Linked DNA regions of Homo sapiens: region 1 is linked to region 2. The links come from fine-mapping of genetic effects on gene expression. A gene starts in region 2. The other region holds a variant in brackets. All regions are shown on one strand. Distances are from middle to middle.

Evidence for each region. PIP is the estimated chance that this variant, and not a neighbour inherited with it, causes the effect.
Region 1: its variant is fine-mapped to the expression of CARMIL1 in monocytes after Pam3CSK4 (Quach 2016, PIP 0.95).

Annotation. Positions count from the first base shown.
Region 1 is chr6:25,326,252-25,334,251 of GRCh38, reverse strand. All of the region lies in intron 2 of CARMIL1 (capping protein regulator and myosin 1 linker 1), which reads right to left. LOC124901281 (a long non-coding RNA gene) reads left to right here. Exons shown (of 3, transcript XR_007059512.1): 3 at 5,515-6,546. Among named protein-coding and RNA genes, the nearest start is that of CARMIL1, 51 kb to the right of the region's middle. The variant T/C (reference allele first, on the strand shown) is at 3,243.
Region 2 is chr6:25,273,142-25,282,923 of GRCh38, reverse strand. CARMIL1 (capping protein regulator and myosin 1 linker 1) reads right to left here and starts at 3,550. Exons shown (of 37, transcript NM_017640.6): 1 at 3,089-3,550. The coding sequence starts at 3,128. It also overlaps the pseudogene HNRNPA3P17. RefSeq lists a silencer at 3,353-3,822.

The sequences.
Region 1 (8,000 bases), 52 kb before region 2:
GTGTCCAGAATCAGGAAGGCCTCTGGCCCCATGGCCTCCCTGACTCTGTTCCGGATACCTCTGCCTCAGGAAACCTTGCAGCTCATAGCGGCTACCTAACAAATTTCTCATCTTTAATACCAGGATCACTACTCAACCCTGAGCTACAACAGCCACCAGGGGTGTGTTGAACTGAGTCTTTGAAGAAAGAATAACCACTTTAAGTGTTGTCCTGCACACACATACACGTGGACTCACAGAACACCAGCAGAGGAGAAAGAATACAGGGAAAGTACATTCTAGGATCATGAAACTTATCATTGGTGTGATGCTGAGAAAATCTCTGAGCCAAAATTCATACCTAAGCATAGATAATATCTGGTACTAACATGTTAAAATACTAGGAGAAGAAAAAAGGCTTTTGTCTCCTTAACAAGCTATAAAACATCAGGAAGTAATGACAGTTATATGGAGCCTACCAGTTTTGCCAGAAATAAAGAACAACTCACCCATCCCCACTATGACTACAAAAAAATGACAACCTGTTATAGCATTTCAAGCAATATTTCAAGCTGGGTTCCAACTGAGAGATATTTATAGATGTCCCATTTAAAAACAAAAAAAAACCCTCCACTGTCAAATAGATTTGGGGAACACTGTTTACTAATCCTCCTCTTAAAGAAGCACAAAACATATTTTTATTTATTTACACAGTGTCTTGCTCTGTCACTCAGGCTGGAGCGCAGTGGCACAATCTTGGCTCACAGGAGCCTCGACCTTCCAGGCTCAAGCGATGCCCCTGCCTCAGCCTCCCAAGTAGCAGGGACTACAGCTGCACTCATCACTGATTTTTCTGTATTTTTTGTATTTTTTGCAGAGAAGGGGTCTTGTGATGTTGCCCAGGCTGGTCTCGAACTCCTGGGGTCAAGCAATCCACCCACCTCAGCCTCCCAAAGTGCTGGGATAACAGACATGAGCCACTATGCCCAGCCGCATATTCATTACAAAGGCTCATCTGAAAAGTTCTGCTGTCAAGAAATTTCTTTCTTTAAATTTATTTGACCAAAGAAGTTTTACTCACTTAACACCTTTAAGCGCTGGCATTCCAAGGGATACAGTGTAGTAAACAGCAGGGAGGGGACTTTCCACATTTCTGTAGAATCTCTGCTTTTCTGGGCAAGGTCATCAATCTGTACTATTCAGATGGACTTCCTCCACGTAGCAGGAATCACATCTGAGTGTAAACCATTTAGTCTCTCCAGCAGAAAAAGAGAGCCTCTCTCTTCAAGGCGGTATTTCCCTAGACCCCAATGAAGGACTCTTGGGTCATATGTCCACCCCCTGGACTAATCACTGTGGCCAGGAGACTATAGCACAAAGGCCAGCAGGCACGGAAGTATCAGGTCTTTTGTGGCTGAAGAAGCTGAAACCATAGTAGAATCACATGGTTGCTGTGGACATGAGAAGTTCCCTAAAAGAAGTGTGTGTGTGTGTGTGCGCGTGTGTGTGTGTGTGTGTGTGTGTGTGTGTATGCATGTTTGCATGGTGGGTGGTGCTATGGAATGGAGACAGAATCTCTACCCTGAGCTCTGGAAAACTAAATGACATCTCCATTTGGATATGTAACAAGTATTACAAATTAACATTTCCCAAATGTTTTCAGCTGTCCTTCCCTTCTTCCTCAACATGTCCCTCAGTTTCAGCAAAAGTCAGTATCACATACCTAATCAAAACCTGGGAATCGTCCTGGATTCTTCTTTTTCCCTCATTCCCCACTTTTGATCATCAGCAAATTCACTTGCTTCTACCTTAAAAATACATTCAGAACTCACCCACTTCTCTACACCTTCACTGCAAACACTCACCCAAGCCACTATTATCTCATACCTGGATGAGCACAATCGAACCACTTCCATTTTTGCCTACCCATCTTATTCACTACAGCTTTCTCAGTGCCCAGCACATGACAACCACTCAAAAAATATTTGTAAACAAACGAGTAAATGGGGAAAAGGCTCCTAGGCTGGAAAGACAAAAACAGCAGATTTCCAGTTCATCACTACTTTTATGACTATTATGACCTATCTTTAGATTTGAGGCTCCTGGCAACAAAAGTCAAAAGGCAAATACACAATAGTCCTAGTGATTCAGGAGGCTGAGGCGAGAGGATCACTTGGAGTCCAGGAGTTCAAGGCCAGCCTGGGCAACAGAGTGAGACCACCTCCCCATCTCTAAAAAAACAAAATTTATGTTTTTAAAAAACCAAACACCCTATTATTTTAATTGATTCTTTAAACGAAGCACACAAGATTTTTAAATGAGAAAAGTTCTTTTTTCCTGGCACTAAATGCTAAAAGCAATTTAGAATATGAACTATTCATTTAACAAGTATTCATAGGTCCTTAAAGAAAGCATTGAATTGCAAAACAGACTTATGATTCCTTTAACAAACAACATGGACCTGAACTTCACAGTTGGCTTCTCATATCAATTTGTAAAAGCCAAAGACAAGCATCAAAAATTAAAGTAAGTGGGCTTCAGGGAGTGTAGAATAATGGGGTCCAGTCACGTAGCTTTCTAGAGATCTAATAGGAAGGACTGAACTTCGGCTCCCTTGGGGGACGGATGCCTCACGGGTCCTGCAAGAGACTCAGATTCTTGCCTTCCCACTCCCATGGATTAGCTCTGGGGAACTGCTGAAGGATTTTAAGTAGGAGAATGATACACTTGGATGTGCAGTTCAGAAAATCACTCTGGCAGCTGTACAGACAATGGATCAGGGTGAGGTCACAGCCTGGGTGGGGCTAATTAAAAGGGTACTGAGGTTTCCTGGAGAACAGCGATGACAGCCTGAACTAAATTTTAATAGAACTTAGTACCCACAAAATCTCTTTAGCCTATCATGGGCTGCAGCATCAGTGGAGCGTCTATCATGGAGGCAGTGCCTCAGGAACAGGCAATCCTTTCCCAGTAAATACTGTGCAGGGCTTTTCACCCCCACCTGCTACTGAGGTCCTGGCATAACACATAACATTTGAGTTGTGCAGCTCCTATATGAAAATAAACAGAAGAAAAGTTGTTTTGACAGCAGGAGGCTGGAAGGAGGCTTAGAGTCAACTAGTCCCAGAGTACAAGCAAGGGAGATACTTCAATCCTCAACTTCCTCAGGGGCAGAAGAATATACTGAGTGCCTCCTCCCAGGAAGTTTGCTGCTTGTTGTTGAAGAATGATTTCCCATAGAAACAATATTATAAGCAAACAAA[T/C]TTCTTCTTTCTACAATTTATCTTGATAAACATGATTCACTTCTGGGAAACTTTTAGCAAAATTACATTACAGTAAGTTCCCTTCTCCTCCCTCCTCCTCAAAAAAAAAAAAAAAAAAAAACCTCTTGAAAATGTAAAGCAGCAAAATAATAAAATTGATCAATCTTCCTCAATCTAAGTCCATAATGGAGCATCTAAAAGCTGGTTCTTCAAAATGGCAAAAGGTCAGCACTTCCAAAAAGTATCTCACCTAATGAGGGGGTAAATCATGGCTTGTGCCACTCCAGATCCCATCCTCATCTGTCTTTTTTTTTTTTTTTTAATAGAGATGGGCGGGGGGGTGCGTCTCACTATGTTGCCCAGGCTGGTCTCGAACTCCTGAGCTCAAGTGATCCTCCTGCCTCAGCCTGAGAAAGTGCTAGGATTACAGGCATGAGCCACCACACCCAGCCCCTCACTGTCTTCTAAACCAAAAATGATTTTCTAACTTGGTTGAAACCTTCCTGGTCTCCCAGCCTCCAGTTCTGCCACACTGTAATCCAGTTACCAAGCTGCAATCAAAATGGAAATCTGATCATCTCTCCCCTTCTTCCCTGGCTCCCCAAAATCTTCATCAAAGCCTTCCATATCTTAGCCCTTCCTGCATCATCTCTGTTCCTTAAATTGAACTTCACACTTTAAATCCCTCTCCCTCTTGTCATCACTACCTGGCCAGCTCATCCGGGCCTTAAGGCTCAACTCAGTCATCACCATGGAGCATCCCTCTAGCCCTGCACTGGGCCAACGCCAGTCTATAATCGCACAGTACCATGGGCACACCTCTTACCACACCGTACTGTTCAAGTCTGCATGTTCTGTCTTATTTATCTTCCTGCCTCTGGTAGCAGCATAAAGCCTGACACATCATGAGCATTCAATGTTTACTGAACTAACTCCAGAATGAAACTCTCTTCTACTTGCCCTCAACTCCCTACCTTCAATTTCCTGACCTACAACAGTGTCCTCAATGTGTTCTTTTAACAATGAATGTCTGACGCTGAATAGGATCAAGTGCTTTGCACAAGTTCATCATTAAACAACTCATATCAGAGACTAATGATAATGAGCTGATGCCCAGACTGGGAACTAAAACTTCGCAAATAACTTCTCATATGCTGAATCCCCTGAACAACTCTGGAGGACAGATATCCCTGTTATCTTTTCATTGTTTTCTTCAACCCTATCTTTCAAAACACACATACAACAAGAGCTGAGATACTTTGAGTATCTTTGAAAAATTTTGTCTGAAGCAAGAAGAAATCTGCATTTAGGTATCACTGATGAGGTAATCAGAATTCTTGTTTGACTTCTCCAAAAGATCCCTGATGCATTCAATTTACATATGTGCTTCCTCTCAGCCATATCCTGGTCTGAATACCAGCAATGTCACTTACTAGACAGACTTTGCTCATGTGCTTTTACAAGATAATACAAACTTCTGAATGTGTCATGTCCTGATCATTTAGGCTAAGGATCAATGAACTCAAATGTATAAGGAGGCCAAAGTAGCTTTGTCAAAGAGCAAAGCCGGCTCTGTGGAAAAAACGACAGCCTTGAGGACAATGACAAATTGCAGTCAACATGGGCATCACGGCCAATGAGAAACACTAGGGTGCTTTCGGGATGGCAGAAAGCTGAAAAGAGCTTGCCACTGCTAAAAGAAAGAGCCTGGTCACAACCCAGCTCTTCCGATTCCTGCTAAGCACAAACATAGACCTAGTGTTCCCAGATCCAACTTTCTTTTTTTTAAAGGTGGGGGAGGATGGAATCTAGATTTATGGCTGATATCTCCCAATTTATAAATATTGGGAACCAACATCAATTTTTTAAATACTGCGTATTTAAAGCACAGTAGAGCAGGCTGCAAGCCACCAGCCTGTGACATCTGGCTTTACGCCTAAGTTGCTCATTATCATTTTAAATGGCCCACTGATTCTTATAAACTTTTGTCTTCTCCAACATGACAGAAAGATCTTTTGTGACTGGAAATACATATGACCCTCCTAAGACTGGCACCCATTGTAGAACCCAAGATTTGATGTCCTGGACTCAGGAATAGATGGATTAAAGCATCCATGTTAATTAACATGAAGTTTTGTCTAGCTCACCAATCCAGGAGATTTTTTTCCCCTCTCATTGCATTTTTTTTAAATTTTTAATTATTATGACTACATAATAGTTATATATATTCCTCATATCTCAATTTAATTACCACAATCACTGTTTTTACAAGGTCCCAGGCAAGAAGAGGTGAGGCAAATGGAGGCTCTGAGGAAAGTGGCTCCAAAGCCTACATGATGGAAGATAACTCTGGAAGAGAAAGAGATGACGTTCCTAAGCTTGTATAGCAAAACTTGAGAGAAGGTAACGAAGATGTGACATCTGAACTCAGAGAAATATAACTTCTATAGAAAAGAAACAAGGCCTTGCAGCTCTATAAGGAACAGTAAATAAATCAAGTATGCACACAAGAAGTAAAAAAATATATCCAAGTAGAAAGGAAGCTTTTCATGAAATGTCCACAGAGCTCATGCTCTGTAGTGACTGTAATGCAAGATTCAAGGCTCTATCTAGAAAACTCCTAGCCAGTCTTGACGGACCAAGCCCTACACTGAGCATGTACAGAGTCTTCCTGTTCCATGCAGTACTTGCTAACAAAACTAATTTAAATGCCTTACCATGACTCGATCTCCTTTAAAGTACCTCATTAGTCCTTGATATCCCTTTGCTGTATCTCTGGCTTGCCTTGCCACTGCTCTGTGAGTCCCCACAACTCCTCCTCCACACATACTCTTCCCCCAAGAGCTTGGCACAGAATAAAGATCCATTTTAGATCTGGATTTAAATAGTTTTCTTTACTAGCTCATTTCCTTATCTACTAATGAGGGAAATACCACCTACGTCAGAGTGGGAATTAAATGAAATAATAAACCTAAAGACCCCAGCTCAATGGTTCAAACATAAATAATGCCAAATATTCATTCCTCTCCCCATGCCCATATCCTCTCACCAAGCCCCAATGTTCTATAGCTTATGACCCAAAACGCTAAAAGTAGAACATTCTAATATTGAGCATATTAACAGAAGCTTGAAGAGATATGCAAGTTATAAATCTGTTTTTGTTCTTCCTCACCAATATAAATTTGCTAAGTGACAGATTAAGACAGTCAATTCCAAGAAGTTGGATTCAATAACATGACATGAGGCACAAAGTAGCCCATATCAATAGCCAGGAATGATTTTATTGCAGCTTGTTATGCTAGTTGCCAGGAATTTTTTTTTAATCTTGAATGTTGCTTTAAATATAGTAATAAAAGAAAATATGACCGGCTGTTGAAGCCCATATGCTACTCCTTTTCAGGACTACAAAATGCTCATTCAGACTTTGTTTGTGCACAGCAAATAGTAGCCGGAGGGGAGCCAGTGAAATCAATGAAAACTTACTGTTTGGAAAACTAGCAAATAGAAAATTGGGGCTGTGTTTCTCTGGTTTCTTCTAATCTAAAACCTGTGATGGAAATCAAGTTGATTCTTGACTTTTTATTTCAATTTCACTGACAGTCCAAATAGAATGCCTAGTGATCTCTATGCTACAAATCTCCGCTTCATCATACAAATTAAGCACAGTTGATCACTCTGTTCCTGAAATATTTCCCCATGAAACCAGTTTCCTGGTTTTCTTCTCTTCTCTCCCTGGCCGTTCTTTCTGTTCTTTTGCTGGCTCTTGCTCCTGTGAATGTCAAGAGTTCCTTCCAGCTTGGTCCTTTGCCCGCTCTTGCACCCTCTCTCCTTGCTATCTCTCTCCTTGGTGATATCACACCTATTTCAATTGCTTTAAATACTCCCTGTACACTGGCAAGTCCCAAATTCCTTTCTGGAAACTGTATCTTTCTGCTGAGCTGTATTTGAAACTACATCTTCCCTCTGGACTGTACGCTCATTTTGCCATCAACAGCCAACATCTTCACTTGGACATTTCATGAACACTCCAAACGCAATGTGTTCAAAAGTTATGTCCTTTTGCTACCCCCACCAGTCTCCCTCATCACAATAAACAAGGTCCTTATCAGGTTGCAGTGAGCCAAGATCATGCCACTGCACTCCAGCCTGGGTGACAGTGGGATTCCGTCTTGAAACATTAATAATAATAATAATATTTCTGATTTCTCCTTTTTCCTCAGCTCCCATATACAAAAGTCCTATCATCCCTACCTTCAAAACATACACCAGAATCCATCTACTGCTTACCATCTCCTCCAGCAATCCCTAGACCAGTGGTTCTCAAACTTTTCTGTATATCAGATCATCCAAAGGACTTGTTAAAGCAGATTGCTGAGTCCCACCTCCAGGTTCTGAATCAGCAAGTCCATAATAAGACTTGAAGTATGCATTTCTTACAGGTTTCCAGGTCATTCTGATAGGGCTGATCCTGAGACCACACATTGAGAAGCACTGCCCTAGACCAAGCCTGACCTCTCACTCCCACTACTGTTAACAGTGTAATGCTCTACTTAGAAGCCTCAGTAATCATTTTAAACATATCAGATTATGTTATTTCCCCAGTAAAATCAAATCCAAGCTCCTTACTGACCAGTATATGTAATCCAGCATGACTTCTTGGATATCCCGATGCTCTTGCCTCATGGTTCTTTAGCTCTCCACTAAAACCACACACTTCCTCAGGGCCTTTGCACAATATATTGAATCTGCCTGGAAACC
Region 2 (9,782 bases):
CTCTACTAGGTGCTAGATAGAGATGGTCTTTGCATTTCACAGGAGTTTGCAATCTAGTGGAGGTCACTGAGAGATGTCATAAAAGAAATTCACACACAATGCATAAGATCATGGATTCGGAAGCACGCAAAGGTTTCAGGGAGGAGAGGATCCCTGAGCTGAATCTTGAAGGCATAGGAAATAAGATCACTGGTTTCCAAAGTAGAGTGTACAATATAATCCATTGAGATGAAAGAAGAAAATAGAATTTTCATTTCTACTTACAATGTGTGTTTCAGTTTGTGTTTTAGATTATACACACTAAATGGAGCATGTAGTTTAACAAATATATGTTTAATAAGGGGTAATCAAAATTTTCTTCTTGGAAATACCGCCATGAAAGTTTAGAGCTGCTGAGATAAAGAGTGAAAACGGGGAGAAAAAGACAGTGTACGCATAAAGAACAGCATGGAAATCTGAGAAAGCACAGCCTGTTCAAGGAACAGCAAGGAGGTGGAATGTTTGGGGCAAGGGAACATGTAGAAGAGCTCACTGCACTATGAGTTCTTCACAAAGCTCCTATCTTATCAGAACTCGAGAAACAAGCACAGGCCACTCCTCCCTCCCCTAAAAAAGAATTGCGGGAAATGGGCATCTGAAATTGACTTAAGAACATATACACATGGAAACAGACTGGAAAATCATATACCCTTTAAAATAACTACCTCTAAGTGGTAACAGGAGTGACATATAGTCTTCTTATTCTTCTCTACATTTAAATTGTTTCTACATAAAGTCTATAACACTTTTTTTTTTTTTTTTTTTTTTTGAGATGGAGTTTCACTCTTATTGCCCAGGCTGGAATGAAATGGCTTGATCTCGGCTTACGGCAACCTCCGCCTCCCGGGTTCAAGTGATTCTCCTGCCTCAGCCTCCCGAGTAGCTGGGATTACAGCCACGTGCCCCCACGCCCAGCTAATTTTTGTATTTTTAGTAGAGACCGGGTTTCTTCATGTTGGTCAGGCTGGTCTCCAACTCCCGACCTCAGGTGATCCACCTGCCTCGGCCTCCCAAAGTGCTAGGATTACAGGGGTGAGCCACCACGCTCAGCCAAGTCTGTAACACTTTTTAAATATCTTGAGGGAATCTTAAGGGAATATATAGAGGTTTTCATGTGGTCGGTCGCCATTTTGAATTGATCAGAGCAGAACTCTTGTGAGCACTTGAATTTAGAGGAAAGCAGGTGCAGGTATTTATTCTATCCCAGCCTAACTTGACCACTGAAAGGCCCAGAAAAATCATATCGGGCATAATATGTCACTCTCTTGAAAGAGATAGGCAATACTTAATAAAAACAAAAATTCCATTTCAAGATAAAGGTCAAACTCAACTTTTAAAATATACAAACTATTCCTTTTGAGAACCATGAATAGAAACCCAGACACCTTATTTCCACTCTACCCTTCACTCTTTCTCTTGGGCCTAAGTAATTACCTACACTTTCCATTTCCAGACTTAAGGACAACTCCTTATATAAAGTAAAAATCTGCCACCCACTTTAGCCATCCTTATCCCCTGACCAGCCAGGCAAGCCCTGCCCTACACTCATTCTCAGGACCTCTGGAGGCGTCTTCAGAGCCTCTGGCGTTTGCTTGGGGTGTTGGAAAGGTCGCAGCCTCCCAGAACCGGATGTGTCACTCACTCCAGCAAAAGATGCAGACTCCACAGGGTTGGGGAGAGAGAAGAGGATCTGCTGGGATCATGATGAGAGGTGCGTGTGTGTGTGTGTGTGTGTGTGTGTGTGTGTGCGCGCGCGCACACGCGCGTGCGTCTGTGAATAATTTCATACTGTAAATTCTGGTAAAAGATCAGGTTTGTCTGTAATTCAGCAGAAGTAGGGGCTTCCATACAAACCTAGCAACAGCCTCTCTACATCAAGTTTTACCTGCTGAGTTAACAGTCACCAACGGAAGGGCATACACAAATTCCTCCAAAGTATTATTAGCTAAAAGAAACAACAGAGGGGCAAATTCCACACATGGAGATCAACGGGTGCTCAGAACTTCCTCTTGTTGTCAGCGCCGATTAAACATCATCTTTGTGAGCTGTAGGCTGTGTAGTGTGCCAAGAATGGTACAGGAGGGAATATAGGTCACTAGGGCTCAAAACACATCTGTACACAGACGCACATACCTTGTTACAGTATAACATGCTACACACATATACATGCTTAAACGCTAGGTTTTCAGAACACTCTCCCATCCTATTTCAGCTCTGCCATTTTAACCCTCCAGATAATTAAGTTAAACCCCAAGACTTAACCAGCCCCGCCCCCACCACCACCAAAAAAAAAAAAACCTCAAGGTACTCAAACAATGGGTCACCTTGCACAGCGTAACACACACGGGTTCCCTAAGAGATCCCCTATAGGGAGAATCGGTAGGTTAATCATTATTAAAATAAGGCTTTTATCATTAACCCTCTATTTCCTGGCCTGAGTCTGCGTCAGCCCTGTAACCCTTTCGCTCCCAGCTGGCTACACCAAGCCACACCTTGCCAAGCCCAGTCATTTTACCAGACTAGCGCCCACTCCCCCAAGTCTGCGTGTCAGAAGATCACCTCCCGCGGGGCATTTTCAGGAAAGCGCCTGACACGTGCCGGAGACGACCTACTGTGCGCTCGCCACCTGTCCTTCCAATAGGCTTTCCCGGACTTTCCCGAGTTTGGGGCAGTGGGCTGGGAGCTGTAAAGGGCTCCCCTCGCTTGCAGAACTCCCAAGTCTAAGATGGCCCGCCCCCTTCTTTCGCCAACCTGGATCCCCGCTTCCGGGCAAGAGGAGGTGCCCAGGGCTCACAGTCGAGACCCTCCTCCCACCCACCTCCCGAGGACTCCCGATTCCTCCCCGAAGCCTTCCCTCTCTGCACTTGGCTCTACAGGCGGTCGGATGGGAACAAACTTCCCGGCACCCCCAGTGACCCTGCCCAACACCACTCTGCCCTAAGGGGCGCCAAGACTTCTCGAGACCTGCGGGAAAGCAGAGGTGGGAAGGGAGAGAGAGGTGAGGAGTACGCAGAGGAAGGTGGAAAACCAACAACCGCGTGAATCTTACCTATCAACTCCCTGGGAACGTCAGAGCTCTCCTCGGTCATGGTTGCCCTGTAGGTGTGGGGGTTATTGCAGGTCCAACTCTGATTTATGGCCCCCTGCCCTTCCCCGAACTCCTCAATTTTTTTAGAGAGGCAGATGCAGCTTGCAAATGGAAGTGGGCAAGAAAAGGGGGGGCGGAGACAGAATTTTGCCGCGCGCCCCCCGCCCCACCAAAAAAAAAAAAAAGAGTTGCAAATGCGAGGCGGATTTGCTGCTGCTGCTACATGACGCCTCCTCGCAGTTCCCGGCGGCTGAATAAGGAGCGGACCGGATTACAAGCGGGCGCGGGGCGCGGGGCGGCTGTGGCGCCTGCTCCTCCTCCCGGCTCGCTGGTCCCCGGCGGGGCTTGGGCCGGCGTAGCTCCCGCCCAGCCTCCGCGCCGCACCTACAGCCCTAGGTGAAAGCGGAAGGCGTGGGAGAGGGCGGGGAGAGCGGCGCGGGGCGGGGGGAGTAGGTTTTCCTCGCGCTCCTGCCGGGCTCCGGCTGGGCGGGGGCAGCTCCGGCCCTCCTCCTTCTCCTCCTTCTCCTTCTCCTCTTCCTCCTGCGTTTCCTCCTCACCTCGCGAGAGCCGGCCTCCGCACCGGTGCGAGGCCGGCCTCCGGTGCCCGAGCGCTGGGTCCCCGGCGTAGGTCGCACCCCCAGGAGAGACGCTGTGCGGTGCTGCGGTGGCGGCGGCGGGCACCGCGCCCCTCCTCGCAGCCTCCCTCCCAAACCGCAAAAGCCCTGCGTCTGGAGAGGGGGCGAGCGGGCTCGCGAGAGAGCCCGGGAGCCATCTGCTGGCTGCGAGGGAGGAGAGCCGGGTGAGCCGGGCTTTCCATTTCCTTGTCCCCACTCCGGGCGGGCCAGGGGACCCAGAAGACGGGAGACGGCAGATTCTGCAGACCCGTCTACACGGAAGCTGGTTCTTTTTGGGACCCTCTTACGCACTTTTTCTTTTTCAACCCTCCCGGTGACATGTCACTTCATCATCGCTATTCTTCATTTCTGATGAGCTAGACGAAACCTGTGAACACTAATCATACCGTGAGAAGACACTTGTGTGTGTGCGTTCAGCTGGTGCTCTGCAGCCGCAGTTCGCTATCTCAGACATTCCCGTTGAGAGCGCCTTGGAAAATGCCTTTCACTCGGAAAAGTCTCTTTTATCCTCGGGGCATATTCAGGAAGCTGAGCTTTAATCACTGGAGCCTATGTAAGCCTGCGGATAGGTCTGATCCTACCTGGGCCCAAACTCCCTATGACTTCCCTGAGCTCCATCCCCAGAGGTTCAACTTCAGGGCCAAGAATACTTTGTGCCTCAATCGCTGCTTTTTAGCCTAGGGCTGGGAATGTCCCAGACTGTCTAATCAGGTTCTGCTTTTAAAGGACAGAAAAGGAGGAAAGGAAAGGGAATCCATGCACTTGGCAATCTAATTTTAAACACTGCTGTTGACCTTGGACCCCTTAGAATCATCTTCAGCCCCACAGCCAGGCCTTACCACTAAGGATTTGCCAACCTGGCCCCTTCCCACCCTCCTTAACCTCTCCCACTCCCTTCTCTATTACAACCAGACTCACTGTTTGCTTCCTCCTTCCTCTTAAGGTTATCTGATTCTTATCTATGTTTTCAAACCCATCCCAATGGTCTACCTTCTTTGTGAATATTTTCCAGGGATTTTCAGATTACTGTGATCCCTAAGCCTCTACAATATGTATTGCCTGAAACACTTTTCTAAACCCAACCATATGGTGTCGTGTTTCATTGCTTGTGTATTTGTCTGGTTTTACTATCTAACTCTTGCATTGTCCCCTGAGTTTGGATTTTTTCTGCCCAACTAGACTGTAGGTGAGTTGAAAGTGGGAATTTATCTTAGACTTTTGAACTTCTTCAACAGCCTAGTTCAAAATAGGTGTTCAATAAACATTTGTTAACTGATTTTAGAGCTTTGGACCTCAGGCCTCCAACCATTTGTTTCAAAAGTGGGCAATTTCTTTAAGCTAGACATTTCCTTAATGCATTAAATATATTTTTTCTGCAGTAAATGGAAATTAACATCTCAAACTGTCTTTCATTCAACCTGGTGTGTTAAAGAGGACTTTTCTGGCACATACCAATGAAGTTTCAGAAATGCCCTGAAGTTTCCAAACCATGTGATAACTTGTGAAAATAAGAACAAAAGTTTGTCTTTTTTTTTTTTTTCCTGTGGCCTGGGTGATGGAAAGAATAAAGGGAAGGCTGTATGGCAGTTCTGTAATTCAGTACTCTTTGGCTTCTTTTAAAGGAAGCTGGGGTTTCAATAAAAGAATCATTTTCACTGCAACAGGATCCTGATTGGCTCCTGCATCTCTGAAGAAGTGAATTCAAATGAATCTCCTATCACAACACTGAAAAATGACTGACTGATTTTGGAAATCAAAGTCATTTACTTCTCGGTTGCAAAACTCAAATATGTTTCAGAATAGCAAGCAGAGAACTCCAAGGAGCACTGTTTATAAAGCTGCAAACCCAACAAGCAGTAAACATCCCTAGCACCGTAAAACCATGGTGCCAGCTTGGAGAATGCAGTTTGCATTCTGAAATGTGTGCTTGTTTACTGAATCGGCCTGCCCCTTCTACTGCTACTGCTGCAAAAACAAACTTTTCTCACTCCATCACTCCAACTTCCTCAAATTCATCCCTGTTTATATAGTCTTGAATACACGAGTGATCAAACCACTACATGAAACTGATTGTGTTACATATGTGATTAGCCATAGCTTCATCTAAGTAAGTATTTACATGTGGCTGTGTTTAAGCCATACAACTAGTACTGATAATCTGAAAGCTGTTAGTAAGATAAAACTTTTTCAGAGAATCCCTACTGCATTTGAATCTGTAAAATGTTTAACATTTAACATATAGTGAGTGGCAACATTATTTTGAAAAGGAAGATGGAGAAGAGTGTAATTTGAAAAGCATGGCAAGGCCAGGTGCAGTGGCTCACATTTGTAATTCCAAATGCTTTGGGATGCCGAAGTGGGTGGATTGCTTGAGCCCAGGAGTTTGGGACAGACCAGACTGAGCAACATAGTGAAACCCCATCTCTTTTGAAACATACAGTGAGTGGCAACATTATTTTGAAAACTTATCCATGGATTTTTATTTTTAATTCTAAGCATATATTCACATCTATATAGTACATTTTGTAATGCATTATGGTCAGAAAACACTCTGAGTAAAAAAGTTTGCAGAAAATAGTGTCCCTAAAATGACACAACATGCTATCATTAGAACCATATCATGTAATGATTAAACCCATGGAGATAAAGCAAACAAAAAAGTTAAGAAGAAATCAGCACTCTAACAAAAAAAAAAATCACAAACTTACGTAGGTCAGTTTCTGATCTCGTCTACTGCATTAAGAACTGGTTTTAAAATGGAAAGGTATTCAGAAATGTGGGAACCACCAGCATTTTACTCCCCAAGTAATGATTTTAAGATTACCTTCCACCCCCAGTAACCATTGGGGAAGGGGCCTTCTTAAGAAGGTGTATTTTTCAACTTGGTTAATAAAGATCTTTCAGGAGGGTAGGCAATGTGAACTAAGCTTGCAAACACCTCTAAGAAAACTTAGTTTATCTCTGACTAGAAGACGGTGGAAGGTAAATGGCTATTAAACAATACTCCTTTAAAGTATTTACAAATGAAATTATATGAGACCTGAGATTTGCTTGAAAATAGCCCATAGGGATGGTGGGGGGTGGAGAGTATTGAGTAGAGATATAGATGAAATCAGAGTGACCTTGTGTTGATTTTTGTTGCAGCTGGATATCAGATCCATGGGAAGGCATTGCTTTCACTTTTGTATGTGTTTGCAATGTTTCATAACAATAATAAAACAGAACGAATCCTTAACACATGACTGAACAAAAAAGAGGAAAATCAACTCAGTCATTAATTCAGAACACATCTGTTTGAATGTGACATAATTAGAGCTCCCAGTTTTACAATGGTTTTCCAACTTCAGAACACTTGAACACTTCAATAGATAACGTGTTGTCTTGATTCAAAGAAACATTTTCTTATGTTAAAGTTACTGAAATCTGAATGTTTTATAATTGATATAGATGGTTAAAATCATGCTCTTCACACCCCATTCCCAACACAAATGCAAAATATATTATGAAATCCATGATTCATCTGACAATAAGTGACCTATGACAAGTGAGGAAATAAGGGTTTGACATATCTGAGCTACCCAGTGACTCCTTGGGTAAAAAGTATAATTACTATATCTTTATCACAATGAGGAAATAAGTTCACATTTGTGGAGTGACTTGCCCAGAGTCACAGCCTTAAGGGTCAAAGATTGAACTCAGAATTTGAGATTTCCAGGTAAATGTTCATTTTACTATAGTTGTTGTTGTTGTTGTTGTTTTGAGACAGGGTCTTGCTTGGTCACCCAGGCTGGAGTGCAGTGGCGCGCGATCTTGGCTCACTCCAACCTCCGCCTCCTGGGTTCAAGTGATTCTCTTGCCTCAGCCTCCCAAGGAGAGTAGCTGGGACTATAGGTGTGTGCCACCACATGGGGCTAATTTTTGTATTTTTAGTAGAGATGGAGTTTCACCATGTTGGCCAGGCTGGTCTCAAACTCCTGACCTCAAGTGATCCGCCAGCCTCGGCCTCCCAAAGTGCTGGGATTACAGGTGTGAGCCACGACACCCAACCCATTTTAATATCGTTTTTATGCTACTCTACAGGCTCCTAGGCTAGGTTCCCTGGGAAGCATACAGGTGACCAGGGCTTGGCCCCACTCACCTACAAGGAGCTCCTTCTCTAGGAGGATGATCAAGATGAGCTTCGATTGACCTGCAACTAGCCCAGTGCCAGCCACATAGTAGGTGAGGGAACATTCCTTCAGAAGGCTCAACTGAGCCAAGCCCTTTTATAAAATAATAAATACAAAATGTGCTAGATGTCAAAATGCGTTCAGTAAGTGCTATAGAAATTCGTAGGAGGGGGAGAGAGGAAGCAATAAAATGTGGAAAGGTTCTTATATAAATTGACTCAGCAAATATGAGTTGAGCACTTACTATTTGCCAGAGGTTGTAATGGTAAATTATGTGGCTGCTTCATGCAGCCCTCATGGAGCAGTCTAGAGGAGAAAGAGAGCAAGACCAAGACAAAAAAAAAATGCAACATCTTTTATAACTTAATCTTGGAAATGACATACCATCACTTCTGTTCTATTTTACTGGTCACATGGATCAACCCAGGTCAATGGAGGAAGGTGACACACAAGAATGTGAATACCAAGAGTTGGGAATCATTGAGGACCATCTTAGAGACTGGCTAAAGCAGAGAGAGAGAGAGAGAGAGAGAGAGAGAGAATGGGGCTAATGTAGAGAAAGTAAAGGATCAATGATTAGAGTAGCTGGGAATCAGGAAGGTAAGATACCAAGTTGGGAAGTTAAGTAAAAAATAATTCAAGAAGGGAGAAAGGGTTAACAGTGTCCTGTGCTGCTACAAAGTTAAATTTGATAAGGAATAATAATGCATACTTGAACTTAGTAATAAAGGAGGTATTGTTTTCTGTGGAAAGATATATTTTAGTAAAATGACAGAGAAGATAAAGTACAATGGGTTGAAGCATAATGAAGAGATGGAAAAGATGAAGGGAAAAAGGGAATACATATGACTCTAGAATTTTGAGGGTGACAAAAAGGAGAGAAGTAGCCAAAGGCCTACATAGAAGACTTTCTGTTAACCCTCGAAGATTTAATACTTACATTTATTTCTGCCACTTTCCAATGAGAGGAGAAGAATAAAACAGCATCAAGTCTCTAATGTAGATTATAGACTTTAATAATGTTGTATCAATATTATTACTAGCCCATTACTTGCAACAAATGTACCACACTGATGCAAAACAATGATAGGGGACACCGCTGGGGTAGGAAGCATATGGAAACTCTCTGTGCTTTCTGCTCGATTTTTCTGTAGACCTAAAACTATTCTTAAAAAAGAAGACTGCTCTTCCTCTCAGTCCCAAATTGAACTCAATTTGGAAAAGGCGAGTCCGGGCTCAAAATGGAGGCACATGATCCAAAGGAACCAGAGCACTTGAGAAAACTGTTTACTGTGTTCACAGCTTTGAAAATACAGACGATAGTTTGAGAAATGGCACATACTCACAGGCTGTGTGATAATGAGAGACTCCCAAACAACACATTCCAGAGGCTTTGGTTTTGTGACTTACTCTCGTGTTAAAGAGGTGGACACACAAGGCTGACAGGTGTGTACTGGAACCAAAGAGAGCTGTTTCTAGAGAGGATTCTATAAGGCCTGGTGCCCATCTAACCATGAAGAAAATCTTTGTTTGTGATATCAAGGAAGATAGAGAAGAATGTAATTTGAAGAGCATGGCAAGGCCAGGTGCAGTGGCTCACGTTTGTAATTCCAAATGCTTTGGGAGGCCGAAGTGGGTGGATTGCTTGAGCCCAGGAGTTTGGGACAGACCAGACTGGGCAACATAGTGAAACCCCGTCTCTACAAAAAAATGCAAAAATTAGCCGCGCATAGTGGCACGTGCCTGTGGTCCCAGCTACTTGGGAGGCTGAGATGGGAGGATTACTTGAGCCTGGGAGGTAGAGGGTGCAGTGAGCCAAGATTGCACGACTACATTCCAGCCTGGGTGACA